Homo sapiens: one gene and its partners. The protein of the gene in region 1 interacts with the protein of each later gene in a pairwise test. Each region holds a gene or a part of one and is shown on either strand. Other genes may lie near its edges.

Evidence for each region.
Region 2: the proteins of PPIG (region 1) and DAB1 interact in binary tests that used the Homo sapiens proteins (3 or more experiments, as listed by UniProt).
Region 3: the proteins of PPIG (region 1) and PNMA2 interact in binary tests that used the Homo sapiens proteins (3 or more experiments, as listed by UniProt).
Region 4: the proteins of PPIG (region 1) and TFCP2 interact in binary tests that used the Homo sapiens proteins (3 or more experiments, as listed by UniProt).

What each region holds. Positions count from the first base shown.
Region 1 is NC_000002.12:169,579,195-169,587,662, forward strand, and holds the start of PPIG (peptidyl-prolyl cis-trans isomerase G), read left to right. Parts: upstream 1-5,156; 5' UTR 5,157-5,296; exon of another isoform or gene 5,297-5,303; intron 5,304-5,605; exon of another isoform or gene 5,606-5,705; intron 5,706-8,468. UniProt on the Homo sapiens protein: PPIase that catalyzes the cis-trans isomerization of proline imidic peptide bonds in oligopeptides and may therefore assist protein folding. May be implicated in the folding, transport, and assembly of proteins.
Region 2 is NC_000001.11:56,994,278-57,001,060, forward strand, and holds the end of DAB1 (disabled homolog 1), read right to left. Parts: intron 3,871-6,783; exon of another isoform or gene 3,852-3,870; 3' UTR 501-3,851; downstream 1-500. UniProt on the Homo sapiens protein: Signaling adapter of the reelin-mediated signaling pathway, which regulates the migration and differentiation of postmitotic neurons during brain development.
Region 3 is NC_000008.11:26,503,833-26,511,268, forward strand, and holds the end of PNMA2 (paraneoplastic antigen Ma2), read right to left. Parts: intron 5,846-7,436; 5' UTR 5,716-5,845; intron 5,412-5,715; 5' UTR 4,924-5,411; coding exon 3,829-4,923; 3' UTR 869-3,828; downstream 1-868.
Region 4 is NC_000012.12:51,113,832-51,121,595, forward strand, and holds part of TFCP2 (alpha-globin transcription factor CP2), read right to left. Parts: intron 4,942-7,764; coding exon 4,790-4,941; intron 3,917-4,789; coding exon 3,840-3,916; intron 2,590-3,839; coding exon 2,484-2,589; intron 1-2,483.

The DNA of each region.
Region 1 (8,468 bases):
ACGGCAGTGACTGCATGATTGGCAGAGCCTGTGGGAGTCCACCATTATCAGTCAGTCTGTCCAGTGGTCCATGCCTCAGAGCTCAGACAACTGCCTGCACCCAACCTCATGCCTGTAGCAAATGATGCCAATGCAGCAAACGCAATTGGGCAGCTGGGACACGTCTAGCTTCTGGATGCTCACTTCCTGACAGTTGGCAGCCCACACTTTTTTTTTTTTAAACAGCTTTACTGAGATTTCATTTACGTCCCATAAAATTCACCCATTTAAAGTGTACAATTCAATGGCTTTTTAGTATATTCACAGAGTTGAGAAGCTATCACTCACATTTAGAACATTTTCATAACTCCAAAAAGAAACCCTGTAACCATTAGCAGTCACTCCCCATGTCTCCCTCACCCCCTCCTGTCCTCCAATACTTTAGACAACCACTAATCCCAGACAATAATTTTATACAGCACTGATTTGGGTTGCTTGGAACTAGATCAACTGATAATAGATCTGAGATGAAGGTAATCTGAATGCACAGCATAGAAGGGGTTTTCAAACAAATGTAAGAAAAACATAGAGATGAAACAGCATGATCCAAGTCATTGCCTTCCAGTCAAAAAACACCAGGAACACATATAGTTAAACAAAGTTGGGTTTATTGACTGGTTGCAATGAAGTAGGCTGTACCCTAAGAGGTGTCTCCATAAGAAGGTGTTAGAAAGTTGTCATTATAGCATATAGTCTTGGCCAGGCACAGTGGCTTACACCCATAATCCCAGCACTTTGGGAGACTGAGACAGGCAGATCACTTGAGGTCAGGAGTTCGAGACCACCTTGGCCAACATGGTGAAACCCCATCTCTACTAAAAATACGAAAATTAGCCAAGCATGGAGGCACATGCTTATAATCCCAGCTACTTGGGAGGCTGAGGTGGGAGGATCACTTGAATCCGGGAGGCAGAGGTTGCAATAAGCCAAGATTGCACCACTGCACTCCAGCCTGGGCAACAGAGCGAGACTCTGTCTCGAAAAAAAAAATTTTTTTTAGCCTTGTGTTAAGTGATTTTGGAGAGTTTTAGAGTGGTTTCTCTAGATTGGATGCTGTGAGTAAGCAAGGGTAATTCTATTCTAATAATCTTGATCTAGAAGGCAGGAAGAATGAACTGAGGTTAAAGCTGTAATTGATAAAGAAACAGCAGCCATTCATATTAGCAAGGATAGATGGATATTTCGTCTTTTTTTTTTTTTTTTTTTTGAGACAGAGTCTCACTCTGTCACCCAGGCTGGAGTGCAATGGCACGATCTCAGCTCAATGCAAGCTCCACCTCCCAGGTTCACACCATTCTCCTGCCTCAGCCTCCCAAGTAGCTGGGACTACAGGCGCCTGCCACCACACCTGGCTAATTTTTTGTATTTTTAGTAGAGACAGGGTTTCACCGTGTTAGCCAGGATGGTCTTGATCTTCTGACCTTGTGATCCGCCTGACTTGGCCTCCCAAAGTGCTGGGATTACAGGCGTGAGCCACCATGCCCGGCCGATGTTTGGTCGTTTTTACAGTTTGTACAATGTTCTTGTTTTTGTCTGAAACAAGATTATGGAAGTGTCTGGTTTTTTCCTTGATCCATCACAATCAGAGAATGGCATGCTTTTAAAAAAAACTAAACATATTATTGGTGATACAGTAGACAACTATTAATAGAACAAACAACAGTTTGTTGTTGATCTATGGGTAGAAACAAAAAGTTTTATTACTCTAAAGCAAAAGTCACAGGTAAAGTAAAGGTTAATTGCAGTAGCCCAGCCAACCTACCTCCCTTCTTCTGGTATCAAATCCCATTCCTCATACTACAATGACTGAAGTGATCCAGGCTAGGCCAAATCTAATACTTTAGGCTCACAGCCTATTAGATTGGTAGTGGTATCTGGTGTAACAAATAAAGCCAAACATCAGTGATTTAACCCACATAATTTGATTTATCAGTCACACCACATTCCAATGTGGATATCCCTAGTCAGTGGAAGAGGACTTTTCTCCAAACAGAGATTCAGGGAAGTAGACCTTTTCCATAGGCCCTTCCCCAGGGCCTTAAAACATTCTGGTTCAGCTGACAAAACAGGAAGAGAGGGAATGGAGAAGGCATAGCACTTCACAAACATTTTGGCCTGGATGTCCGCTCACTTTCCACTGACACAAAGTATATTTTATTTATTTTATATTTTATTTTATTTTATTTTATTTTATTTATTTTGACATGGAGTCTTGCTCTGTCACCCAGGCTAGAGTGCAGTGGTGCAATCTTGGCTCACTGCAACCTCCACCTCCTGGGTTCAAGCGATTCTCCTGCCTCAGCCTCCCAAGTAGCTGGGATTACAGGTGCCCACCACTGTGCCCGGCTAATTTTTGTATTTTTAGTAGAGCTGGAGTTTCACCATCTTGGCCAGGCTGGTCTCAAACTCCTGACCTCGTGATCCACCCATCTCAGCCTCCAAAAGTGCTGGGATTACAGGCATGAGCCACCACGCCCGGCCCCAAAAAGCATTTTTAAATCCTTACCTATGGGATAATAAATGTTGTTTCAAGCCACTAAGATACAAGGGGACAGCTAAAAAATGTAGTTCTTAGCAGAACAGACACTTTCCAGTGACACCCCCTACTATGTAAGTGGGAGTACAAATTTTGGAGCTGTTACTGCTATGTTAGTAAAATACTTCTCTGGCATTTGATGATTCGGGCTGGCAGAAACTCAGATCCTTATGATGTGAGGTCATCACTGGGTGAGGTGGTACATACCTGTAGTCCCAGCTACTCTGGAGACTAAGGTGGGAGAATCGCTTGACTCCAGGAGTTCAAGTCCATCCTGAGCAACATAATGAGACCCTGTCTCTAGAAAAAAAGAAAAAAAATGAAGCTATGTAGAATTAGACAAGTGAAAAGTTCCGTGATAATCAGTCTATTCTTTCTTCTCTGTGTCAGTTATCCCTTGCTGTGTGACAAAATCATCCCAAAACTTAGTGGCTTAAACAACACTTATTTATATATATATACACATATATACACACACACGTACATATATGTGTGTGTATATATATGTATATATACACATATATAGTATATGTATACATACACACACTAGGATAATAAATATATATATAAATATATATAAGGAAACTATAGGATAACAAATGTTGTTTATTATATACACTATACATACAGTATCCTTCCATTTATTTATTTTTATTTAAGTTGTGGGGTACATATGCAGGTTTGTTACAGAGGTAAACTTGTGTAATGGGGGTTTGTTGTACAGAATATTTCATCACCTAGGTATTAAGTCTAGGACCCATTAGTTATTTTTCCTGATCCTCTCCCTCCTCCCACTGTCTACACTCTGATAGGCCCCAGTGTGTATTGTGCCCCTCTATGTCTTCATGTGTTCTCATCATTTAGCTCCCACTTATAAGTGAGAACATGTGGTACTTGGTTTTCTGTTTCTGCATTAGTTTGCTAAGGATAATGGTCTCCAGCTCCATCCATGTTCCTGCGAAGGGCATGAGATCATTCTTTTTCATGGCTGCATAGTATTCCATGGAGTATATGTACCACATTTTCTTTATCAAGTCTACCATTGATGGACATTTAGGTTGACTCCATGTCTTCGCTATTGTGAATAGTGTGGCAATGAACATACATATGTGTATGTCTTTATAACAGAACAACTTATATTCCTTTGGGTATATACCCAGTAATGTGATTGCTGGGTCAAATGGTATTTCTGCCTCTAGGTCTTTGAGGAATCGCCACGCTGTCTTCCACAATAGTTGAATTCATTTAAACTCCCACCAGCACTGTAAAATGTTCCTTTTTCTCCACAACCTCACCAGCACCTGTTATTTTTTGACTTTTTAATAATAGCCATTCTGACTGGTATGAGATAGTATCTCACTGCGGTTTTGATTTGCATTTTTCTGATGATTGGTGGTGTTGAGCTTTTTCATTATGATTGTTGGCTGCAAGTATGTCTTCTTTCGAAAAGCGTTGGCCGGGCGTGGTGGCTCACACCTGTAATCCCGGCACTTTGGGAGGCCAAGGAGGACGGATCACCTGAGGTTGGGAGTTTGAGACCAGCCTGACCTACATGGAGAAACCCTGTCTCTACTAAAAATACAAAAAATTAGCCAGGCCAGTCTGTGGCCCAGGGGTTGGGGACCCCTGTTTTAAGGTATTGCAGAATTGTCCCCTCCACACACAGCGAAGTGTAAATCCGTTTAATCTCTGAACTATCTAAAGATGAATATGCTGCTGCTCTCCTGCAATAAAGGGCAATGACTTAAAAGAGGTGGGGGTGGAGAGGCAGAAATGTCCTCTGTTTTACTGCTGTGTAAAACTGGTCACGCCCCTTAGAAGCACCACCACATGCCTAACTGTTGTTGATAATTAATTTACCTGATGCAAGTGAGTGAAAAATTTAAATGATCATAATTTACGTTGCCTTTAAACGACAGAACAATTTAAGTCCTCTAGTTAGCTAGTTCCTTTAAAACACACCCCACATCCCTACCAGAATCACTGCCCATCCCCCCCCACCCCCCCGCCCAAACAGCAATGGTTATTTATTTCTAACATAATCCGGGGACCCTTGCCCCTTAAAATAATTAAATAATATATGCCATATTTTCTCTAGAAGGCACTAGATTTGGCATCAAAAGACTTGCTTTGGCATTCAAGAACAGTGTGTTTGAGGAGGAGGCGTTTATCTTCCCTGAGCCTCAATTTCTTTATCTGTAAAACAACAAAGAACATCAAAGCTCTTTGTAATTTCTTCCTCTTTCCTCAAATAACACTTTGCTCATTACTGCGTTTTTAGAACTTATATCCTAGCGTTAAGTGGAAGCTTAACTGGAAGCTCCATGAAGGTAGGCCTTCCTTTCTGATAACCTAGCGTAAGATCAATAAATGTTTATTAAATGAGGCACTTTACTTCACAAAGGATATGGCATTTTAACGGTTACAAGCGTTCCCAGTCAACGCATCCACAAAGCATTAGGCCACCTATAAACTAGGAATTTAAAAGGCACCAAAATCCTAGAAGTCCTAGGAGGGCGTGGTGACGCAAGCAGGTGAACGCTGGCCGATGCTGACAACCCACTCCTGACGCGCTTCCGGTGCGACGCTGTCTCTCCATGCCAGGACTGAGTTGTGGGGGAGGGAGGCGGTTAGCGGGCTTTAGCGCCTTTTCTGGCGGCGGTAGATTTGAAGCGCTTCAAAGGACCGGACCCAGAGAAGAGGAAAACTCTACCGGTGCAGGTAAGTGGTATGAGGCTCAAGTTGTTCTGGCGGCGTCATTTCAGCAGTCCCTGCGTACGAAAGCGGGAAGGGCCTGGGAAGAGGGGCGGAGCCGGCGCGGCTGACCGGGTTGGGTTTACCGTCTTTCCCTCGAGGTATCGGGGCTGCTTGGGCCCAGAGGAAGTCCCTGAGGACCGCAGCAGTGCCTTTGCCGCTGTTGCAGAAGGAGAAGGCTTGCAGTCGAGCCCCGGGGCCTGGGGACGGTCCTTCCTCTGCCAGCCCCCGCCCTCCCCACTCAGGCGCACACCTCCCTCACTGACGCATTTTGCCGCACAAGCTGTAACATGGCGGCAGCGACTGCGGCCTGAACTCTAGGGAGCCGGGTTGATTTTTAAAGCTTCAAAATCCTAAGACTCAGCACTGTTGCGGGGTAGGTGGCGGGACTGGTGGGGAAGGGGGAGACAGCCTGACGTCCTGTCAGGCTAGGGTTGGAGAGTGACGGGCGAAGAGCCTGAATCACAGGGATTAAAATTGAAGACTAGCTTTCCTCCTCTTTCGACCTTTTCCTCTCACAGCACAGTGGCTGTCGTGCAGTTAAGTGGCAGAGGCCACTTTGTTAAGCATTTTTCTAAAACTCAAGTCCAGGGTCTTGAGCTCTCGCGAAGTTCCCCCGTGTTTCGGAGGAGCTGTGAGCTGCGCAGGCCTTTTAGGAGGAGATAATTACTCTTTAGGAGGAAGATGATGATTTCGGGGCTCAGTATGCCTGAAGGGGAAGTATGCTAATTTGGTTCTTGGTTAGTCTTTTTTTTTGAGACGGAGTCTCGCTCTGTCGCCTAGGCTGGAATGCAGTGGCGCGATCTTGGCTCACTGCAACCTCCGCCTCCTGGGTTCAAGTGATTCTTCTGCCTCAGCCTCCCAAGTAGCTGGGACTACAGGCACGTGCCACCATGCCCGGCTAATTTTTTGTGTTTTTAGTAGAGACGGGTTTTCACCGTGTTAGCCAGGATGGTCGATCTCCTGACCTCGTGATCCGCCCACCTCGGCCTCCCAAAGTGCTGGGATTACAGGCGAGAGCCACCGCGCACGGCCAGCTCATGTTTAGTCTTAAGGAGCAAAGTCTAGATGTGCTGGCAAGGAGTATGCACAATCGTTTTGGAAATGCTATAAAAGCACCATTTTGTGCATTGATTTTAATTTCTTTCCACGATAGCCCTTTCTGTGTGTAACCAACATTTTGCAGTAGTGAACACAAATACAAAAGTATTTGCTTTTATAGTTTGGTACTAACATAGTTGTCCAAAGAACAATTAGATGTTTTAGAAATTAGGGGGGCCTGATATTAACTTTCAGTAGTTAAAACCAGGAAAAAAGAGTGAGTGTGTGTGTGTGTCGGTCACACACACGTTTTTGTCTTTGTGTATTCCCATTTGGTAACAGGATGGCCGGTAATTGCTACTTTGTAACAATGACGGGTGGGGGGGTGAACATTTTATAAATTTTGAAATCGTGCTATAAAATCCAGAAAAGATACATTTAGAATGGCTGCTTCTCTCCTGTTTTTAATATATCCTGAAAATTTACCCGTTTTAGCACTCCCCTTTTTTTTATGTTAACGAGTTGGGACAGAATTATTTCTGTAACAAATTACATGGTTCTGTGTCTTAAACAAGAGTTCATTGTACATTGTTTGACTATTTCTTTATGATTCAGAATTATTGATGCTCTGAGATCCTATAGGGTCTTGTAGTAGGATTCTGCGCATTTGAATTGTTGGTTTCCTTTTTAAGGCTTTTCTAGGCAGTCAGTTGTCAGGAGTGCTCCTGCTGTCAGGAGTGTATAAGTATGTAAACTTCTTAGGTTAGAAAAATTTGGACTTTCTGGCCCAATTATCTTTCTGAGCTTCAGTTTCTTCACCTACCTGCAAAATGACATTTTGATCTCCACCTTCCATCAACTGTGGGCTTGAAAATTAAATACTCAGCTTTGTTAAAATTGTGTGTGAAGTTGGCTTTCATTAACTCAGTGGTTCCTTTATGGGTGAAGAGTGTTCATTACATTTATTTTTAACCATATAGTCGATTTACTGTGGTGCTTATTATTGTGGTCTTGCAGTATTGGTGACTTCTACATATTTTTGATATTTTGCCTTAAATTAGATTTTCTGTGAGGCAGCATCCTCTTCTTTATACAAAGGGAAAGTGGAAGCCATTCATAATAAAGTACTTCTGTTAGGACACTATCTGGGGTTAATTCTTTAAATAGTAGTTGCCCCTTTAGTTAGGCTTTTTTCCTTCCTATTAGTTTATAAATAGAGTATTTAAACATAATTATAACATGTTGTCTATTTTTAGAATCCCAGTGTACTAAGATGTCATGAAGGAATACATAGATAATTAATGCAAGTGACCTGAAGAGTTTGTTGCAAGTCTTTCTGTTGCATTGTGGCATTGCATGCTTTTTGCTTTTATTTATTTATTTTTTTCAGACAGAGTCTTGCTCTGTCGCCCAGGCTGGAGTGCAGTGGCATGATCTCAGCTCACTGCAACCTCCACCTCCTGAGCTCAAGGGATTCTCACGCCTCAGCCTCCCTAGTAGCTGGGAGTACAGGTGCCTGCCACCACACCGGGTAATTTTTATATTTTTAGTAGAGAAGGGGTTTCACCATGTTGGCTACGCTGGTCTCAAATTCCTGACCTCAAGTAATCCATCCGCCTCCGCCTCCCAAAGTGCTGGGATTACAGGCGTGAGCCACTGTGCACTGTGCCCAGCCTGACTTTTGCTTTTTTTTTTGAGACAGAGTCTCGCTGTCTTGCCCATACTGGAGTGCAGTGGCGTGATCTCGGCTCACTGCAACCTCCGCCTCCCGGGTTCAAGCAATTCTTCTGCCTCAGCTTCCTGAGTAGCTGGGATTACAGGCATGTGCCACCACACCCAGCTGATTTTTGTATTTTTTATAGAGATGGGGTTTCACCATGTTGGTTAGGCTGGTCCCAAACTCCTGACCTCATGATCTGCCCACCTTGGCCTCCCAAAGTGCTAGTATTACAGGCGTGAGCCACCGTGCCCAGACCTTTTTGCTTTTAATGTTAGGACTAAACTTCAATTTTCATGTTGCTTAAGTGTCGGTGATTTTCCCTGGTTTAATGCATAAATGGTCACCATAAGAACTCGGTATTTTTATTTCTGTAGGGAA
Region 2 (6,783 bases), on another chromosome or scaffold:
GTGTGGATTTTGAGGGGAATGTAAAGAAAGATAAATGCTTCCTTCTTGAGTCCCTTAAAGCAGATGACCTTAAAATGAACGATGGGGAACTCTTTGACAGTCTAGATTAATCTCGGTTTTCCAATCAATAGTTTAATAGGTTTTTTTTGTTTTGTTTTAGGGGAAGACACAATCCACAGGGCTAGTCCCAGAGTCTTTCCCAGTTTTGAACGTCTCATGCTAAATGTGGTCCAAATACCACATCTACCCAGGGTTTGCTTTTTTTCTGACAACATCCTCCTTCCTGTCTGGGGCTGCTTTTCCAAGCATAGCAAGCACTTGAATTCAACTGAGGGCTGACAAATTGACCTTACTCCCCAATAAAGCTTGCTCTTTTTAGCTCAGGGCCAGGGAAACACAGGCTGTCACTTGGTCAGATGGAATCTTAGGTAAAGCAATTTCCTCTTCCGATCCAAGCCTGAATATCCAGTGGAAACTTGTAGAATAAAGCCAGGCTAAAGTGTTGTTCTCAAACATGTTTATTTGTAACAGTTTTACATGGTGTGTTACAGAAATTAATGGAAAATTTCTAAAAATTTTGCTGTTCTGTTGAATGCATTGTACATAAAGTTAAAAATAATGTGTCCATATATGTTAACAAACTGTCATCTGAGGTAAAGTTAAAGTAGGTCTAGAAAGGTACTGCAACAGTCATTTTCTCTTTCTCATCTTTATTAAAAAAATATGTGTCAGAACGCAGAAATTGAAATGAACCAAACCCACAGAGTAAACATTTGTTTAAAAGAAGGTGCCCAGTACATTACATGATGGGGTTTCAGGAGACACTGGGATGAGTACGAGCTATCAAAAAAGTCTTGCGGCATGTAAAGATTGAAGAGCTATGGAGAATGGGGACAGAATGACAGGTGGTGTTTCCCTGGTTTCAAAATTTAAAGTGACAAATTTAGTGCTAGTGGAGGATGAGGAATTAACAGTTGTACACATGGATTTTCTATTGATCTAACCAGAACCGTGCAGACTCCCCATGGTCTTTTGGTATTGGCACCTCAGCTCTTGCTTGGAAATTTCACTGTACTCCTGGGACAGGATACGGTGCTTCCAGGCTCACCAAACAGTGCTTGGAAAAAAATCAGAATTCTGCCAATGAGAATATGGATGGCAGTTGAAAAACTTGACTTTATTTCCCTTACTTTAATGCATCACTTGGGCATCTATCTTCTTGAAGTTCAGAGCCAGTTACATTTTCAATCATGTTCAATGAAAGAGGACAATTCTCCTGGACTTTCACCTTCTGCTAGGAAATTAACTCCAGATGGTATACCTGAAACAGCAACATCAGCCAGAGTTCACTTTGAATGTGTCAGAAGCAACCCAAAGAATTGGTATAATGGTGTGATACTGCAAGACAAACTCAAGACAGCCATATTGAGGGAGAAGATAGCACCACTTGTTTAGAATCAAATCATAGGCAACAAAGCAATTTAAGCAATTTCCCATGGGAACTGCCTATCTTACCAAATCCCCAGAAAACAAACTGGTCTCAGGCCAACTCTTATGGTCATTCCACCTTTCCCATCTTCCCGTTCATGTGAAAGGGTTACCTAATCATAAAATGTTTGCTCATTTCTCAAGAAACTCTGTGGACCAACAGGTGATAGCTACAGAGGGAGGTAAACGGCCCTTCTCACTTTTCTGGTTCTTCGGACCTTCCACATTAGGATGATATTGACATATATTCTTGAATAGACGTTTGGTCAGTTTATCTAACTGAAAAAAAAATTAGACTCCTGTGACCTGATAGTGTAAAATGTGGGCTTTAAATGATAACCATTACCTTCATGTATCACTTTTCGCTTTGTGAACAAGTATACAATCATTTTTCAAATGAATCTCCCAAATCATTTTAGTTTCTATTGATATGAAGAATCAAATGCAGGCCTATTCAAATCAATTGTCTCAATGGAAATTCTACTTTTCAAATCTAAAAACCAAATAATAATAATTATCCTCAAATCCAATTAATCACATGAATCTTTAAAGTTTTCTTCTTAGTGTTAAAACACTTTCAACATACTGTAACTGCATAGGAACATCAGGAAAACACACTTGACCTGTATAACAATTCTCTGTAGGGCAAAAATATATAGATTCTTTATGAAAATCATGTGCTAAACATACGAACCAAACACTGCACTTTTTGTCTCATAAGTGTAAAAAAAGGAAGCTTAGCCTCTTCTGTTTCACGTACAAACAGTCCAGTGATTTATATCGGGGGTAGGTGGGAGTGGGGAGGTGGGAGAGTTTCAGAATCTGAATTCTTCAGAATGTGAATTGTCTTTTTCTTGTGTTGCACGTAGGGTGGGGACTCTCGTGGAAAGGCTAGATGATGGAGTCACGTGCTCCCTTCCCGTTCACTAGCTGCTGATTGGCCAACTGCTCCTGCCAGCTGTCCCTGCACTCCAGCTTCCTACCATATGCTCCAGAATAACGTCTGGAAAGTGAGCCCCATCCATCAAGTTTGTCACACCTTGCACTCAATCTGCTACCTTCTCTACAGTGTAATGGCATTATTAAAAATCATTTTCATTAACATTTATATTTACAAAAAAAAGACAATTTTTTTTCATTAGAACTCCTTAAAGCCATTTCCCTTAAATATTTAAAGAGTTTAATGGTAAGGTTTTTTTTTCAAGTTATAAAATAAAAATCCCATTTGAATTTTCTGATGTACAAAAAGAGATAGAGATGAACCATTTGGACCACAGAATCAGTTTGTTATTCTGAATATTTATGCCACCATTGTTCCATTAGAAAGTTGGTTTTTAAGATCCAAAACCACATTACCAGAATTGTACCAGAATTATTTGGCAAATGACTTTTCTTTGAAAATGGCACGTGGAGAAGACACTTGTCTGCATAGCAACACAGCAGCAAGATATCGGAAAAATAAAAAATATCATTTTATTGTACTTAGAGTTTAGAGCTTCTTAAGAAATCAGATGCATTTTTCATCTTTCTCATCAATGGGATCTGATGTCTTTTCCTACTCACAGAATGAAGGTTCGTACTGAAAGCTGTCTTTCTTCACCAGGATGCAGAATAGCTAAAGGACTGTTTTGGCAACATTCGTGATCATAATGAATAATCAACCACTTATTTGTCTTGTAATTTCAAGTTAATTCATTTCACTGAGGCTTTTTTTCTCCCCAGTTAGATTTCTTCACCCATATCTAAAAAAAGTCAAAAGCAATACAAAAATTTGTACACCTATTAATTTTCAAACATGACAAAAAAAGGAAAGGGGGGAAAATGGCAGACCAGGCCCCATGGAGTGACAAAAAACACATCATCCTATGTGAAAAGGCATATGGATGACGATATTGTGGTCACAGAAGACCCTTTGCTTTTGCTTAAAGAAGTCAGTTCCAACCCTGTTGTAATCCTCTGATGCCTGTCACTCCAAATTTGGTGTCTCAACAGTGGTCAACAGGTAGAGAAATAAAAAGGGAATTAATAATTTTGCACACTGAGTCATCTTAAACCCAGCTATGAGGGCTCAAATATTTGTTGGGTAAGCATTTGCTTGATTTCTGATTTAATGTTGGGTGGATCTTTCTATACTTTTTTTGTGTGCTGCCATAGATATCTGCCATTGGTTGCCAAAAATGCTTAGTTCCCTCTTCTGAGCGAGTTCCATTGGGCAATCATGAATTTCTTGTGGGAAGAGGTGAAAGAATACAAGAGAGCCTGTCGTGATGCTGATGTCCATGCCAGTCTTGAGCACCCACCACGAGCTCGCATCGATGCTATTTCTTAGGTCTGTTGATCTGCGCGTACAGAGGCTCTGGCTCCTGTGGATAAAGGAACAAAGTGAGGCCTGCTCTTTACACTTGCATGGATTTTCTGAGACAGCTTTGGGAAAAGGGGTTTAGGATTAAAACAGAAAAGTGACAGTTTATGATGGATGACCTTAGGTTATTTTTGGAGTATTTGATCAGGGTGCATAACATTTTGGCAACATTTTTATTATCCAAAATAGCTATGCACTCAGTTCTGTCTTTCGTTTTCAAGTTGGAACTGATTGCCCTGTTAGGGAAGTAGCATGGTATAGTAGGGAGAGTTAGAAAAGCTGTGTCATGTGGACAAGATACTTATCCTGAGTCTTGGTTTCTCCAACCACAAAATGGGAATAGTACTGTTTATCCTACGGGGTTCTTGAGGGAATTAGAGATTACACATATAAAGTATCTAGCACAATGCTTGCTAGCAATACATCTTCAGAAATTGCTAACAATTACCATGAGACAAGTGGACATTTTTCCAACACAGTTTCATAAATGTCCACTTGAGAACCCTGAAATTCTATTTCAAATTGCTCTTCTACAAATAGTGATGCCTGGGTGCACTGTTGAGCCAGAGAAACAGCAAGTGTGTCTTTGTCTCTTAATCACAAACTTCTGGACTTGTTTCCATTCAGTCTGAGCCCTCCACTTTGGCCAGTCATTTGCCTGCACCCAGGGGGCTGTCCTGAAACACATACAGGGATTTTCAACCAGCATGTAATGCAGCAAACCTGCAATCCACACCTAGATAGGAAACAGCGTTCGGCCCTATTTAAACCCCGTCAGACTTCAGCTGATGTTGAGATGGCTCATTGTGCCTTGGCCAAGCAGATTTGATGGATACTGTGGTTTTAAGCATGCACAGGACCTTCTGTTAAAATTGACCTTTATGCTGTCACTCTTGGAGGTCTGTGCCAGAATTAAACGGGCACAATGAAATCCTAATTTTACCATATTTGATATATTAGCTTGTCCCCTGCCTTGTCATATAGGTTCTTATTATTTGCTTTTTTCTTGAAACTTCAAAATGAATTGGCATTCTGGGAGCCCCTACCATGTGTCTGGCACCATGCTAGGTATTTTCAAGTACATTGTCTTTTTATCTCATCACAACAGCCTTGTAAGGCAGATGCTTTATCTCTTTTGCAAGGGTGAAATTAAGCACAGAGAAGTTAGATAATTTGCCCATGGTCACACAGCTAGTAAGTCTAGAGACATGAGAACTGAAAACAGGGTCCAGGGGCCAGTGCTTTTTCTAATCTTTTACAACAGTGACCATGAGGAGGGAGAGACAGAGAGAGAGAGACCCCAATCTTTCCATCCATTGGTGCTTCAGAGTTTACAAAGCACCTCATGTCTTATTTATCTGCCTTATAGTCCTGAGGGTGGCTTTTATTTTTTGAGTCCTCCCTTTGCAGATAAAAACTGAAGTTCTGAAAGGTTGTGTGATCTCAAGGTCATTGTGCTGTCTCTTGTGTGTAGCATATCATATTGCTTGCTTTCTACTGTAAAGTGGAATGGCCTAGAAGATAAGGTTGTACTGGCCCATCATTGTACAGATGAGGAATCTGAAGTCCTGTGAAGACAGCTTTTGTTTCTTCAGAGTCACAGGGTTACTTAGTATCCATGCCAAGAGTAGACCCCAAGACTCCTGCCATCAGATCCAATTTCTGGTTCCTCTAGAACTTGTTATGTTTGTATTCTTCCAGTGGGAAGGAACTTCTTTCCTTGGAGGCACCCTATTATGCAGTGTAACAAAGTGCCAACTTGTCCCTCCATGCCTTCTGCCCGTAGACTTTCTACTGCCCTTGGAAATGTAAATAAGTACAATCCTTCGTCCAAATGTCTGATGACAGAAAAGTACGGAAGCCCATTCTTCCATGTCCTACTTCTAGGTTACCACTTGCCAGTTCCTTCTGCCTTTTTTTTTTTTTTTTTTTTTGAGATGGAGTCTCACTCTGTCGCCCAGGCTAGAGTGCAGTGGCGCGATGTCGGCTCACTGCAAGCTTGGCCTCCCAGGTTCACACCATTCTCCTGCCTCAGCCTCCCGTGTAGCTGGGACTACAGGTGCCCACCACCACGCCCGGCTAATTTTTTATATTTTTTAGTACAGACAGGGTTTCACTGTGTCAGCCAGGATGGTCTCAATTTCCTGACCTTGTGATCCGCCCACCTCGGCCTCCCAAAGTGCTGAGATTACAGGTGTGAGCCACCGCGCCAGGCCTCCTTCTGCCATTTTACAAATATGAACCTAGCACAGTAGGTCCTCAATGAGAGTCTGTTGAATTACTGAATGATTATAATGCTGTTTCTAGTTTCCTCACAGTTCTGATCCCTTTGTCCTAAATACACTCCAATTTGGCTTTATTCTCTCAAAATCAAATGTAGCAAAATCTATAGTAAGATTATGATTTATTAAACACCAAATCTATTCCTTTCCAGTCTCTTGAACTATTTCAAATACATGTTGTAAGGCTAAACATGTAACTTTATTGTGTGTTTGTGTTCTACAAGTGCAGTAGGTGGAGTCAAAAATAGTTAAGTACAACTACTGGGGAAAAATATTTCCTTTTGCCTGTGCTGGGCTTCAAGCACGCATATTAATGTTTCCTGGATAGATGTTCTCAGCTCATTCTTCTTTTTGGATGCCCCAAGAAGTCAGGCTGCCTTGATCTCACCCTACAATTTGCTCTATTCTAATTTTGGAAACTAATTTATCCAACTGAAAATGACACCTAAAAACAGAAGAAGACAGCAGGCTCAGACAGGGTAATTAATGCCACACTGCATTAAGTTTCTGCAGCTGAGATAAATATTCACACATCTCCTACTTGCCCGAATTTAGCTTCAAATACCCATCACAACAGCAGTAACGACTGCAGTCAACTCTCAATTATCCCCACTAATGAAGGGGAGCAGTGGTGTGGAAAACCCCCAGCAG
Region 3 (7,436 bases), on another chromosome or scaffold:
GGGCCCCCTTGGGACATTCCTCTTTAATGGGCTGGTCTGCAGGATGTATGGCCCAGTGAAAGATACTCCCCCATTGCACTTTAGAAAAAAGAAGGAGAAGCAATTTCAAGAAGGCCAAAGGCAAGAGGAATTTCCCCCCATATACCTCCATAGAATAAAAGGTGACTTCAGGCTGGGCACGGTGGCTCATGCCTGTAATCCCAGCACTTTGGGAGGCCAAGACAGGTGGATTACCTGAGGTCAGGAGTTCGAGCCCAACCTGATCAACATAGTGAAACCCTGTCTCTACTAAAAATACAAAAACTTAGCTGGAACGTGGTGGTGCACCCCTGTAATCCCAGCTACTCGGGAAGCTGAGGCATGAGAATCACTTGAAGCTGGTAGGCAGAGTTTGCAGTGAGCCGAGATTGTGCCACTATACTCCAGCCTGGGTGACACCTTGTCTCAAAAAAAAGAAGAAGAAGAAGAAGAAAAAGGGTGACTTCAGCCCAGAAAAGCAATATTCGACCTTCAGGGTCATTCACCCTTGGCAGAATAGAGTCTGGGAATTTATCTGTACAGTTACTTTCCTAAGCAAATGAGCTGGGGGGTCTCTGAGGCAACTGACCTCCATCTGTTGTTTCTGTATATTTTAAAAGAGAAATCGATAATGGGTGGACCGAGCTCTCCCTTGTCCCCAGAGACATAGTTCAAGTATTCTTGTTCAAGCATTTTTTTGCTTTCAGGTTTTCTTGCCTACAGGATTCTAAGACCTTTTGGCTTTAGCTTGATTTTCTCAACTTATCTCTCAAAATTTTTCAGTAACAAAGCTCCTTCTTCAAGCAGTACTTTATAGAGACCACGATATAGGAAACAGAAAAACTCAGGATTTTATTAGCATATATTTATTTTATAACTTCACATTTATAACATTTTACTTTGTATACCGCCAATAAATGACAATGAAACTATTTTCATAAATACAAAAACACATGAAATTAGGGTGTCATGGTAACCACTGCATCACTTTGGTGGAACAGTATTAAAAATAGAATTTAGAAAGATAAATGATCACAAGTGATACCTTTTAAAAAATGCTTTTCTTACAATCTCAGGATATTCTTCAGTTAAACTGAACCACAATCAGAAAAAATAAGTAATTATTTAAAAGTCAAACCTCTAACAATTGTCAACAACTGCTGGAAGAGTCATCACAAATATAAAAAACAACAAGCACTCAAATTTACAATAAGAGATGAAACGGTTTCTAACACCAGGGTAGACTGGAAGTCAACTGGAAGCATATTAGCTTGTTACCACACAACTGTCAGAACAATAAAGAAAGCATGCATTGAGCAGACAGGAACATCGTGAAAATCCTAAGAGCTTCAATGTATTGAGGGCTTTCTGTGTTCCAGATGTCATGCAACGTGCTTAAAAAGCATTAAGTCATTTGTTCATAACAACCGTGTACTCTCATCTTCTTATTTTTCAGATGTGGAAACTGATGTCTAGAGAAGCTAAGCAATTTGCTTACAGTATGCACAAATCTACCACAAGACTACACATCAACTGTGTTGGAGATTTGCCTAGCACATATAACTAAATGGTGCTCATCTGCACTGCACTCACACACTTACGTGATACACAGGTCTGATCTAAATACACAGGTCTGATCTACACAACCATGTGGTGCTACCGCTTTTAAAATCTGTGAACAATTAAAAGAAGTTTGGATACGTACACAGATACCATAAAGGAAACTTTGCTCTAAGGTCTGCACAAAATGAGCCAATCTGAAAATAAAAGTAAACCTGGTGGTGAATGCTGATGTGTTAAAATTTGGTTATCAGCCCATTTGAATCTAGCTGCATTTACTAGAGACTTAAAGAGTTTAGCCCAGGCATGGTGGCTCACACCTGTAATCCCAGCACTTTGGGAGGCCGAGGTGAGTGGATCACTTGAGGTCAGGAGTTCGAGACCAGCCTGGCCAACATGGTGAAACCCCATTTCTACTAAAAATACAAAAATTAGCTGGGCGTGGTGGTGGGTGCCTGTAATCCCAGCTACTCGGGAGGCTGAGGCACGAAATCGCTTGAACCTGGGAGGCGGAGGTTGCAGTGAGCTGAGATTGCACCACTGCACTCCAGCCTGGGTGATAGAGCAAGACTCAGTCTCAAAATAATACTAATAATAATTAAAAAAATAAAGAGTTTAAAACACATTTTGGAGATGGCACTGCTAGAAAATCTGCAGAACTGCAGAGCACAATTTGAAAGTCATCGTGATGGTAGAGGATGGACTAGTGTGAGTCAGAAAGTTCTGGGCTTCTGTCTAGGCTCCATCACTTCTTGGCATTTTGGTGTTGAGGAGACCACTTAACTCATCTGAGCTTCGGTCTTTCTCTTTATAAAGAGCAAAATTATACCACAACAGGGTGGCTGTATACATTCAATGAGATATACATGAAACACTTTGCACACAGTAGGCCCTCAATAAATGTGAGTTCCTTTTCTCTCCTCTTCATCCTTTGTTGCCACTAAAAGCCTTCTCTAAGCAAACCAGCCTGCTCACTAAATCCAAACCTGCCCTAAACAACCCTGCTCTCAAGCATGCAGTCCCCTCATGTCCCCCTTTCTTTGGGGACACCTCTCAGGCTGTGGACCTCTGGAAAGTAAAGCTTAGGTTGAGTCATCTGTGTCTTCAGGGCCTGACACAGCACCTAGCTCTGGGACCATCTATCTGACACCTAGCAGAAAGGCAGGAAGAACACTTCCCAGGTTAAAACAACAACAACAATGACAACAACAACAACAAAAATCTGCAGGCAGAGGTGGTCCTATTCACTGGGTGATGACACTTTTACTGGGGTGATGAACTTATTTACACAAAGGGTTAGTTAGCCTTTTACCTGTCTAGATCAGCTCCTCATCTAGACTGGAACCTCTCTGAGGGCAGGGCCCATTTTGTAGGTTTATAACTGCTCAACTGCAGGTTATAGCTGTAGTCTTGTAACTCCTTGTACAGTGTCTCACAAAGCCAGGCACTCAGAGAGAATTTGCTGATTTGAGAAAGGAAAACACCTGACAAGTCAAACAGCTTTATTTTTCAAACATTACAAAAGGTATTTTTTTTTTTGACTGCCAATTCTTTCTTCTATGGTATGGGCCAATTCTGGTCTATTTGGGATTATTTAAAGAAAATTGGAAGTACAAGTGTTTCAGATTCCTTCAGGCTTACTATTTAATATTTGGAGTTTAATCTTTTGTTCATTAATAATCTACATAGGGTCTAAGAAACTCCTAGATATTTTTTTCTTAAAAAGAAAAATCAAGGGCCAGGCATGGCGGTTCATGCCTGTAATCCCAGCACTTTGGGAGGCCGAGTTGGGCACATCATTTGAGCCTAGGGGTTCCAGACCAGCCTGAGCAACACAGCAAAACCCTGTCTCTACCAAAAATACAAAAGAATAGCTAGGCATGGTGGTGCGTGCCTGTAGTCCCAGGTACTTGGGAGGCTAAGGTGTGAGGATCACCTGAGCCTGAGCCTGGGAAGTCAAGGCTGCAGTGAGCCGAGATTTTTGTGCCACTGCACTCTAGCCTGGGTGATGAGAGTGAGACCCAAGAAATAAAGAAGAAAGAGAAAAAGAAAAAAGGAAGGAAGGAAGGAAAGAGAGGAGAGGAGAGGAGAGAGGAGGAGAGAAGGAGAGAAGGAGGAAGGGAGGGAAGGAAGGAAGGAAGGAAGGTCAATAATTGGCTTTCATGGTTTGATTTCAGTCCCATACATTAAAGAAAAAAATTTTTTAAAGGTCTTAGCCCACTGGCTGTGGGTCCTGCCCCCAGGTGGTTTTCAGTCGTCTCCCTCATGATTCCAGCGGCCATAGCCATCTCGTTCCTCTGGCTCTTCGATACTCTCATTCTCAAAGGAGGCCTCTTCCTCCTCTTCTTCCCGTATTACCTTCATTAGCTCAAGGAAGCTGGGGGGCGGGCCCTGATCCTTCAGCTCCCTAAGCCGGCACCACAGCATCTGGTTAAGAGTGGCCCCAGCCATGACCTGCTCCAGGCGGACCTGGTCCGCAATACGCCGAGGGATGGCGCGTTTCTCCACCGCTCTCCGGAGCAGGGTTTCTAGCCGTAACACATAGGCTGAGACCTTCTCTCCTTCCTCCTGATAGGTCTTCAGATACCTCACCTGGGCTGTCCTGCGGCTCTCTAGGCTCCCAAACACTTGCTTAAAGGCCTCCAAACACTCTTCTACACTGATGGACGGGTTGTCTGCCTGCACTATGTGCATGAGGTCCAGGGCAGGGCCCCGCAGGCTTTCCGCCAGCCACCTTTTCTTTTCTGCCTCTGTTACTGGCCACTCTTTGACTATCTCCGTGGCCTGTTCCAACCAGACCTCAAAGGACTCTTCCTCTGGGGCTGGGACAGCACTCCCTGAGAATACTCGCAGTTTCCGGTATCTCATGGGTAGCAGGGGCTGAGGCGCATGTGCCATTGCCTGTCCCAACAAATGGGCCAGTAATTCTGGTGAGATGCAGGGCACTGTGGCTGGAGACACGCCCTCCTGCCCCAGGGCTCGAAACATACCCGAGACCGTCTGCCCCTCTTTTTCTAGAAACAGGTTCAATCTTTCAAGAAACTCAGTGTCCTGATTAGGGGTCTTAAAGATCACCTTCCAGACACCCCCCTTTCCCTGGACCTCACTGGGAATGGCCGAGACATCAGTATCTTCCAGAAGCTCTAGTAAGACAGCATTGGCATTCTCCTGCTTCCGGAATATCTTGCCAAGCAGTCTATACCTGCCCAGAGACTTTAAAGTCTCCTGAAGGACCTCCTGAATCTCAGCCTCCTCAAAGTCCGCCGGTATCCCCGTAACCATCAGTGACTTCTGCTCATCCACACTCATTATCCTGCACCAGTCCTCTAACAGTGCCAGCGCCATTGTCCTAAGAATTGACCCACTCTGACTCTACAGGCACCAATTTGTTAGTGGTGCAGCTATGCACTGACTTAATATTGAAAATATCCTGGATGAGCTTCTAACCTTAGAACCCACCAATGAATGGGTCCCAGACTAGGTCACTCAAAGACAGTCACAAAGTTTTCTGGACAAATGACCCTGGCCTACTCAGTGGCAAGAACTCAGGACTTCTTGTCTTTAGGCCTGACCCAGGTGGGCAGGTCGTATCTCAGTTCTAACCACACCTGTGCCCGCAGCTCTGAAGTCCGATTGCCAGTGATTTTCTCAAAGATGCTGGCAGCCACGTGACGCTGACCCTTCTCTGATAGTTGAGGCACCTGGGACAGCTGCTTTCTCCACAGCCTCCTGGTCTCTGATGTTTCGTCTCTCTCCAGTTGATGGGAAAATGCCTTCCACTCTGGGACCCAGAACTCTTGAAGAGAAGCCTCCCAGCAGGGCGGCTTGGACCCCTGGTGAAACAATGTTCAGTTTTACTACACAGCACTCTCTTTCCTTGGAAGCATCCATACTCTAATCTGGAATGGAACTGGGGGCAGATGGCGGTTCTGCTTTACACTGCGCTTGCATTTGTCCCACTCTGTCAGACCCCTTCTTTGCTCACTGTGACTTTTTTTTCTCTTGGGGACTCCAATGAAATCTGGTGTCCCCACCATATGCTCATCAGACCTGTTGATTAATGTCTGAGCCCCAGTTAAGGACAGGATTCAAGGTCTTTGCCATTGAAAGATGAAATCAGGAGATGTGGCTAAATACCTGTTGATGTGTTCCCGAGTGTTCCGCGAGAGGTGAGGAGCTTATTTATTCACCTTTTAGCACAGGAAGACATCACCCACCTCCACACAGTGGTGTGTCTGGCTCTTAGCTCCAGCCAAGCCAAGCTGCTCTGTTACACATAAACAATAAGAACAGGTATTTATGCTTCATTAATATTCAGTAGGAAGACCGTTAATGCACTTATTCAAAAATATGATAATCCTTCACAATACTACTCAATATTAAGTTGCTTTACCTCTTTGATTAACAAAACTAATGAGGAATCACTCAAACGTTTAAAAATAGTTTAATCTAGGTATAACAATTCAGGGAAAAAAATCTCAGGGCCGACTAAGTTAAATCGGGAATTATGAATTAATTCTCTTTTGTTGTGTCTGGAAGGCTTTGCAAACACACATTTGGGCTTTGCTTTTGCTATGAATGGTAAGTGAAATAGTTTGAAGGTTTGTCCCCTCCAAATCTCATGCTGAAATGTGATCCCCAGTGTTGGAGGTGGGGCCTGGTGGGATGTGTTTGGGTCATGAGAGTGGATCCCTTATGAATGGCTTGGTGCCATTCTTGGGGTAATGAGTGGGTTCTTGTTCTATTAGCTTCCTCGAGATCTGATTGTTAAAAACAGACTGCCACCTCCCTCCCCTCACTCTTGCTCCCTTTCTTGCCGCATCTGCTCCCTCTTTGCTTTCTGCTATGACTGGAAGCTTCCTGAGGGGTCACCAGATGCAGATGTCAGCACCATACTTCTTGTACAGCCTGCAGAACTGTGACCCAAATAAACCTCTTTTCTTTATAAATTATCCAGCCTCAGGTATTCCTTTATAGCAACACAAAATAGACTAAGACAATAAGTTACTAACACAACACTCTCCAAGCATTTGTTTCTGTTTCTGTTTTTTGAGACAGGGTCTCACTCTGTTGCCGAGGCTGGAATGCAGTGGTGTAAACACGGCTCACTGTAGTAGCCTTGATCTCTCCTGGGCTCAAGCAATCCTCCCACCTCGACCTCCTGAGTACCTGGGACCACAGGCACATGCCACCATGCCTGGCTAGTTTTTTAAATTTTGTGTAGAGACGCAGTCTCCTTACGTTGTTCAGCCTGGTCTCAAACTCCTGGGCTCAAGCAATCCTCCCGCCACAGCCTCTCACAGTGCTGAATTACACACTTGAATCACCACACCCAGCCTTTCCTAACATTTGAACTTTAACCCATCATTTGAGAAAAAAGAAAAAAGGAGGAAGCACACCTATCAAGGATTTTGTTCTGGAGAACCTGTGAGGATTAGAGAACGTAAAAAAGTTAGAGTTGGCCAGGCGTGGTGACTCATGCCTGTAATCCCAGCACTTTGGGAAGCCAAGGCGGGTAGATCACTGAGGTCAGGAATTCGAAACCAGCCTGGCCAACATGGCCAAACCCCGTCTCTACCAAAAATACAAAAATTATCTGGGTGTGGTGGCACGTGCCTGTAATCCCAGCTACTTGGGAGGCTGAGGCAGGAGAATCGCTTAAACCTGGGAGACGGAAGTTGCAGTGAGCCACGATTGCACCACTGCACTCTAACCTGAGTAACAGAGCAAGACTCTGTCTCAAAAAAAAAAAAAAAAAAAGTTAGAGTTCCTAATACCTCCCAGTTACTGCTGCGGAGTGTGTGTTAAGGGGCTACAACCATTTCCCCCTTGGCCTAAACATCTTCATCAATTCGAAT
Region 4 (7,764 bases), on another chromosome or scaffold:
AGAAAACTGGGTATCCACATGCAAAAGAATGAAGTTGGGCCCTTCTTTCTGTATATGGTTTACCATACAACCTTTTTTGTATATGGTTGTACCATATACAAACACGAACTCAAAATGGACCTGTGACCTGAATATAAGACCTAAAACTATAAAACTCTTAGGAGAAAACATATGGGAAAAGCTTCTTGGCACTGAATTTGGCAATGATTTCTTGGATGTGGCACCAAAAGCACAGGGAATTAAAAAAAATTAGATAAATTGGACCACCTCAATGTAAAACTTTAGTGCATCAAAGGATAGTATCAACACAGTAAAAAAGCAACCCACACAATAACAGAAAAGATTTGCATGTGATATATCTGCTATGGGGTTAATATCCAGAATATTTTAAAAATTCTTTCAACTCAATAACAAAAAAAACAAAACAATCCAATTCGATAGTGGGCAAAAGACTTGAACAGACATTTCTCCAAAGAAAATATATAAATGATGGGCCGGGAGCCTTGGCTCACACCTGTAATCCCAGCGCTTTGGGAGGCCAAGGCGGGTGGATCACCTGAGGTCAGGAGTTCAAGACCAGCCTGGCCAACATGGCAAAACCCTGTCTCTACTAAAACACAAAAATTAGCTGGGTGTGGTGGCGGGCACCTGTAATCCCAGCTACTCAGGAGGCTGAGGCAGGAAAATCGCTTGAACCCGGGAGGTGGAAGTTGTAGTAAGCCAAGATCATGCCACTGCACTCCAGCCTGGGCGACAGAGGGAGACTCCATCTCAAAAATAAATAAATAAATAAATAAAAATAAAGAAAGAAAGAAAATATATAAATGGCCAATAAGCACATGCAAAGATGCTTGACATCACTTATCACCAGGGAAATGCAAATCAAAACCACAATGAGATACTACTTCACAACCATCAGGATGGATATTATCAAAAAATAGAAAGCAACAGGCCAGGTGTGGTGGCTCACGCTTGTAATCCCAGCACTTTGGGAGGCCGAGGCGGGCAGATCAAGAGGTCAAGAGATTGAGACTACCCTGGCCAACATGGTGAAACCCCGTCTCTACCAAAAATACAAAAATTAGCTAGGTGTGGTGGTGCATGCCTGTAATCCCAGCTACTTGGAGGCTGAGGCAGGAGAATCACTTGAACCTGGGAGGGAGAGGTTGTGGTGAGTTGATATCGCGCCATTGCACTCCAGCCTGGGCAACAAGAGCGAAACTCCATCTCAGGAAAAAAAAAAAAAGGAAAGCAACAAGTGTTGACAAGGATTGGAGAAATTGGAACCTTTTTTTTTTTTTTTTTTTTGAGAGAGTCTCGCTCTGTCACCCAGGCTGGAGTGCAGTGGCGTGGTCTTGGCTCACTGCAAGCTCCGCCTCCCGGGTTCACACCATTCTCCTGCCTCAGCCTCCTGGGTAGCTGGGACTACAGGCGCCCGCCACCACGCCCAGCTAATTTCTTTGTATTTTGAGTGGAGACGGGGTTTCACCATGTTAGCCAGGATGGTCTCGATTTCCTGACCTCATGTTCTGCCCACCTTGGCCTCCCAAAGTTTTGGGATTACAGGCGTGAGCCATCGCGCCCGGCCGAAATTGGAACCTTTGAGTACCGCTGGTAGAAATGTAAAATGTGTAGTCACTGTGGAAAACAATATAGTGGTTTCTAAAAAAAATCTAAGATAGAGTTACCATATGACCCAGCAATTCCATTTCTGGATATGTATCCAAAAGAATTAAAAGCAGAGACTCAAACACATATTTGTACATCCATGTTCATAGCAGCATTATTCACAATAGCCAGGAAATGGAATCAAATTAAGTGCCTATCATGGGATGAATGGATAAACAAAGTGTGATATATACACACAATGGAGTATTATTCAGCCTTGCATGGGAAGGAAATGCTAATGTATGCTATACCATGAACCTTGAAAACATTATGCTAAGTGAAAAATGCCAGTCACAAAAGGACAAATACTGTATGATTTCATTTATGCAGTACTTAGTAGTCCAATTCATAGAGACAGAAAGGAGAATAGTGGTTACCAGGGGCTGTGAAGAAGGGAGAATGGGGAGTTGTTGTTTAACAGGTACAGACTTCTGGTTTTGCAGATGAGAAAAGTTCTGGAGATGGATGATAGTGATGGTTACACAATAATGTGAATGTACCTAATGTTACTGAACTATCCACTTAAAAATGGTTAAAATGATAACTTTTATGTAATGTATATTTTACCACAACTTAAAAAACAACAAAATCAACCTATAGTTGCTATGGAACTAAAGTGTTTACACTTCCAACTTCAATTTTGATATCATTTTAACTTGTATTACTTAAAATTTTTTATGCTTAGTAAATAATTTCAAGGTTTATACTAATTGAGCCTCTCAAGCATATGAATCAAGGTAAATGTCAAATAAAGAAAACCAACTCTGGGTCCATAGCTAAAGGCATTTCCTAGGCAATAGATTCTCTTAACTCACCTATGTCAAGAATTCTGTCTCCAGGTCGGTTCCACCTCCAGCCCTCTAGCTGCTGATGCTCAGTGTACTGAAGCCTTCTGTCATGGAACACCACACGGAATATACTCTAAAAGGATACAACAAAATCAGATGATAACAAGACCTCTTGAAAATCAGTGCTGACAAAGAAAAACTAGCAGGATTCACTGCCAGTTTGTTTCTAAACGCAATCTAAAATTATTTTTCTTAAGATCTGTTTCACTCTAAAACCCATACCATACTAAGTGCTATTTCAGGATAAAATTTTATAATTTCTCAGATATAATCTTTTTTTTTTTTTTTGAAACAGATTTTGCTCTTGTTGCCCAGGTTGGAGTGCAATGGTGTGATCTCGGCTCACCGCAACCTCCACCTCCCGGGTTCAAGGAATTCTCCTGCCTCAGCCTCCTGAGTAGCTGGGATTACAGGCATGTGCTACCACGCCTGACTAATTTTGTATTTTTTGTAGAGACAGGGTTTCTCCATGTTGGTCAGGCTGGTCTCAAACTCCCAACCTCAGGCGACCCGCCCGCCTCAGCCTCTCAAAGTGCTGGGACTATAGGCGTGAGCCACCGGGTCCAGCCAATTTCTCAGATAGAATCTTTATAGTTAACTGGTACCATATTTAAAACTTGGCTTAAACTTCAGTCCGATGGTAACTAGGAATAAAGTACTCCTGTCTGAAGCGTTTCTGCACACCTCTTCTGTTATACCACGGCCTATCTGGCTTAGCTCTTCAGATGTATATGAAAAACTCACCAACTCCCCCGCTTGCTAACCCACCATACAACCTGTAAACACTGAGGGTAGGTAGAGCCTGTTTCCATCAACTTTCCTTTTGTTACTCTTACTTTGTAGAAGTGCCTATTAATTCCTCCCACCACCTTTTGACAAAACTCCTCTGTTTCAACTGTGCTGTGAATTATCAAAATCCTAACTGTTAATCTAGACTAAGAGAACTGCTCTTCATCAAAGTAGCTTCTGTTTTCCTTGCTATAAGACTAAGTATCAAAAAAGACACTGAGGCTTCTCTAAAGATCTCAAGGAGGTTACTTTACTCCACCCAAAAGAACTTCACTGAGCCAGGGGTGATTACCCTGGACAGGGAGTGGTAAGCGTTCTATTTCTGCAGCTCTGAAAAATTCATGTGAATACTGGGGCTTACTCTGACCCCAAAGAAATAACACATCAGCTTACTACTCTGCCAACAAATTACTGCAGGCAAGAGATACCATTAAGCCATTGGAAGCAAAAGAACATTAACAACAACAACAAAATTTAAAATCCCAAAAGGATTAGTAAAAAATATTGTACAGAAGAATGATTTATTCGTTTTACCTTCACCAATTTGCCATTAATTTCTGGAAGTTCTCCAAGTTTCCTATTGTCTAGCATTCGAATTTCATAAGACTGTCCTAGAAGAAAAAGTAATTACATATTATATTCACCACAAATTAACTTTGCTAGATTCGGAAAGAATAAAATTCAGTTGGTTGAATATACAACAGTATAATAATATTATTAGTATTAGTAACAACAATCAGAAGCCTTTACAAGATGCTCAGCACTGTGCTAAGTATTGTCACATTATCTCATTTAACTGATATACTTTTCTAAGGTATTATCAATCCCATTTTACAGACAAAGAAATTGAAACTTAAAAGAGTTTTAGCAACTTGTCCAAGGCCACACAATTGGTAAATAATAGAGCCAGGTAGAGTAATACTTCTCAGACAGTAACCAATGGGAGTGTCTAGGGAATATGATTAGGAAGAGGAAGCTGGACACTAAAAATGGACAGCTAAGCAAAAGAAGCTAGTAATAGATATCAAGTATGACATTAGAACTCAAATCTCTGAAGTAGGACTTCTAGTTTGATAGGCCACACTAGAAAGATCTAAGTTTTTACATATAAGTGTACCTAATAAAACATCATAAATGGCCGGGCACGGTGGCTCACGCCTGTAATCCCAGCACTTTGGGAGGCCAAGGCAGGCGGATCATGAGGTCAGGAGATCGAGACCATCCTGGCTAACACGATGAAACCCTATCTCTACTAAAAATACAAAAAAATTAGCCGGGTGTGGTGGCGGGTGCCTGTGGTCCCAGCTACTCAGGAGGCTGAGGCAGGAGAATGGTGTGAACCCGGGAGGCAGAGCTTGCAGTGAGCCAAGATGGCGCCACTACACTCCAGCCTGGGTGACGCCGTCTCAAAACAAACAAACAAACAAAAAAATCATAAATACAGTAGGTCTGCAATAGTACTAATGAATGAGGAAGCATCTAACCTTGATTGAGATACGTTAGGGTTTCATCATGGAGTTTCACTGCTGGAGAGGTAGCAGCACAAAGCACATATTGAAAAGGCAGGATTTTATTCTCATTATCAGGAGGCAAACTCGACTCTTCTTGCTTAAAAATGGGCAATGCAAGGACATCACTAAAATAAAACAAATGACTCACATTAATACCTGGCAATGGTGCAAACGCAGGTTTATTGCTGAATGATTTAACTGCAATGCTTTGGAAAGCCATAAACATTACTCACCTTGGTGGAGTTTCATCCCAAGAATTCCATTTAGATTACCTGCTGTGATATCCCCCTGACCACAACAGTGTGGGTGATGACAGATATTCACTGCTAAAACCACTAAGTGTTAAAGAGAATGTTTCTAGGAATCATAGACAGGGGTTCCTAAAAGGACTGTGGAAATTATAAACAGAGTTCTAAAATGTATAAATCTAGGACATTCAGTAACGTCTTCATTCTCAGAAAGGCAACAACTATACTATCTATATAACCATATCAGCTGATTTACTATAAGGACTAAAATAACTTCTACAATTCCTTAGAAGCCACGTGAAAAGGACAAATCAATAACGAGTATATATTTCAAGGTCATCTTACATTCTGTGGAATAACAACTAATATTGAGATGTTCCTACAAGCCATTTCCTCTAAGAAAAAGCTTTTTGTATCTATCAGTTTATCTAAACTTGCAAACCAAAGACACATACCCATCCTTTGTCAGTGGGAATGTAAAACCACACTCTCATCCTTTTGTCAGTAGCAATGTACAATGACATAAAACAGTTTAGGAAAAGGTTTGGCAGTTTTTTATAAAATTAAACATGCAGTCAGGCACAGTGGCTCATGCCTGTAATCCCAGCAATTTGGGAGGCCGAGGTGGGCGGATCACCTGAGGTCCGGAGGTGGAAACCCGCCTGACCAACATGGCGAAACCCTGTCTCTACTAAAAATACAAACCTAGCTGGGAGTGGTGGCGCATGCCTGTAATCCCAGCTACTCAAGAGGCTGAGGCAGGAGAACTGCTTGAACCCGGGAGGTGGAGGTTGTAGTGAGCCGAGATGGTGCCACTGCACTCCAGCCTGGGCAACAAAGGCGAAACTCCATCTCAAAAAAAAAAAATTAATTAAAAAAATTAAATTAAATTAACCATGCATCTATTGACCCAGCAATTCCACCCATTGGTACTTATCCAAGAAAAATGAAAATGTAAGTCCACCCAAGACTTGTTATAAATGTTCACAGCATAAAAGCAAAAACTAGGCCAGGTGCTCACGCCTGTAATCCCAGCACTTCGGGAGGCCGAGGCGGGTGGATCACCTGAGGTCAGGAGTTTGAGACCAGCCTGGCCAACATGGTGAAACCCTGTCTCTACCAAAATTACAAAAATTAGCTGGGTGTGGTGGCGCATGCCTGTGGTCCCAGATACTTGGGAGGCTGAGGCAGGAGAATCACTTGACCTCAGGAGGCAGAGGTGCAGTGAGCCGAGATCGTGGCACTGCACTCCAGCCTGGGCAACAAAGCAAGACTCTGTCTCAAAAAAAAAAAAAAAAAAAAAAAAGAACAACAACAACAACAAAAAAATAAAAACTGGAAAGAACCTAAATGTTCATGAGTAAGAGAACGGATGTACAAACCATGGTATATCCATACAATGGACTACTCAGTGAAACAAAGGAATGCAACACGGATGAATCTCACAGATATAATGCTCGACAAAAAAAGCCGGACACAAAGAATGTGTAATGCATGGTTCTGTTTATATGACAGTCTAAAACAGGCAGAGCCAAAGAGAACAATGGTTTCCTGGTGGGGCAGGGGATGACTTGGAAGGTATATAAGGGAACTTTGTAGGGAGATAAAAATGTATTATACTATGATAGGTCTGCTACGTGGTTGTAACTGTAACAGCTTATTTTTGCATCTCATTGTATATGAATTTTACCTAAAAAAAAAATTATTGATTAGAGGATGGGGAATAGGTAGAAGTAAAAATAATAAAAGAGGGCTAGGTGTGGTGGCTCACGGCTGTAATTCCAGCACTTTGGGAGGCCAAGGCAGGCAGATCACTTGAGGCCAGGAGTTCAAGACCAGCTTGGCCAACATGGTGAAACCCCATCTCTACTATTAATAAAAATACAAAAATTAGATGGGTGTGGAGACACACATCTGTAATCCCAGCTATGTCAGAGGCTGAGGCACGAGAATCACTTGAGCCGAGATTGTGCCACTGCACTCCAGCCTGGGCGACATAGCGAGACTGTGTCTCAAAAAAAAAAAAAAAAAAAAGGTAAAAAGAGTAGTAACATGTTAAAGCAAGGTGATGAGTACAAGAGGGTTCATCATATTATTCTGTTTACTTTGTATATGTTTGAAATTTTCCACAGTAAAGTTTTTTTTAAAAAAGAAAAAATATATATAGGCCACAGAGTACTTCTGGGTACAAAAGAAAAGGAACAGGGTACATGAAATAAAAGAAACAATTAAGATTCCCTTGGCTAGGCACGGTATGGCTCATGCCTGTAATCCCAGCACTTTGGGAGGCCAAGGGGGGCAGATCACTTGAGGTCAGGAGTTTGAGACCAGCCTGGCTAGCATGGTAAAACCCCGTCTCCACTAAAAGTACAAAAATTAGCCGGGCGCGTTGGCGCGCGCCTAGTCCCAGCTACTTGGGAGGCTGAGGCAGGAGAATTGCTTGAACCTGGGAGGTGGAGGTTGCAGTGAGCCAAGATCGTACCACTGCACTGAAGCCCGGGAGACAGAGCGAGACTCCATCTCAAAAGAAAAAAAAATATTCCCCCAAAAGATCAGAAGTCAGGAATCCAGTGATTTTTTTTTTTTTTTTAAGACAGTCTCACTCTGTCTCCCAGGCTTGAGTGCAGTGGCACGATCTCGGCTCACTGCAACCTCCACCTCCCGGGTTCAAGTGACTCTCCTGCCTCAGACTCCCAAGTA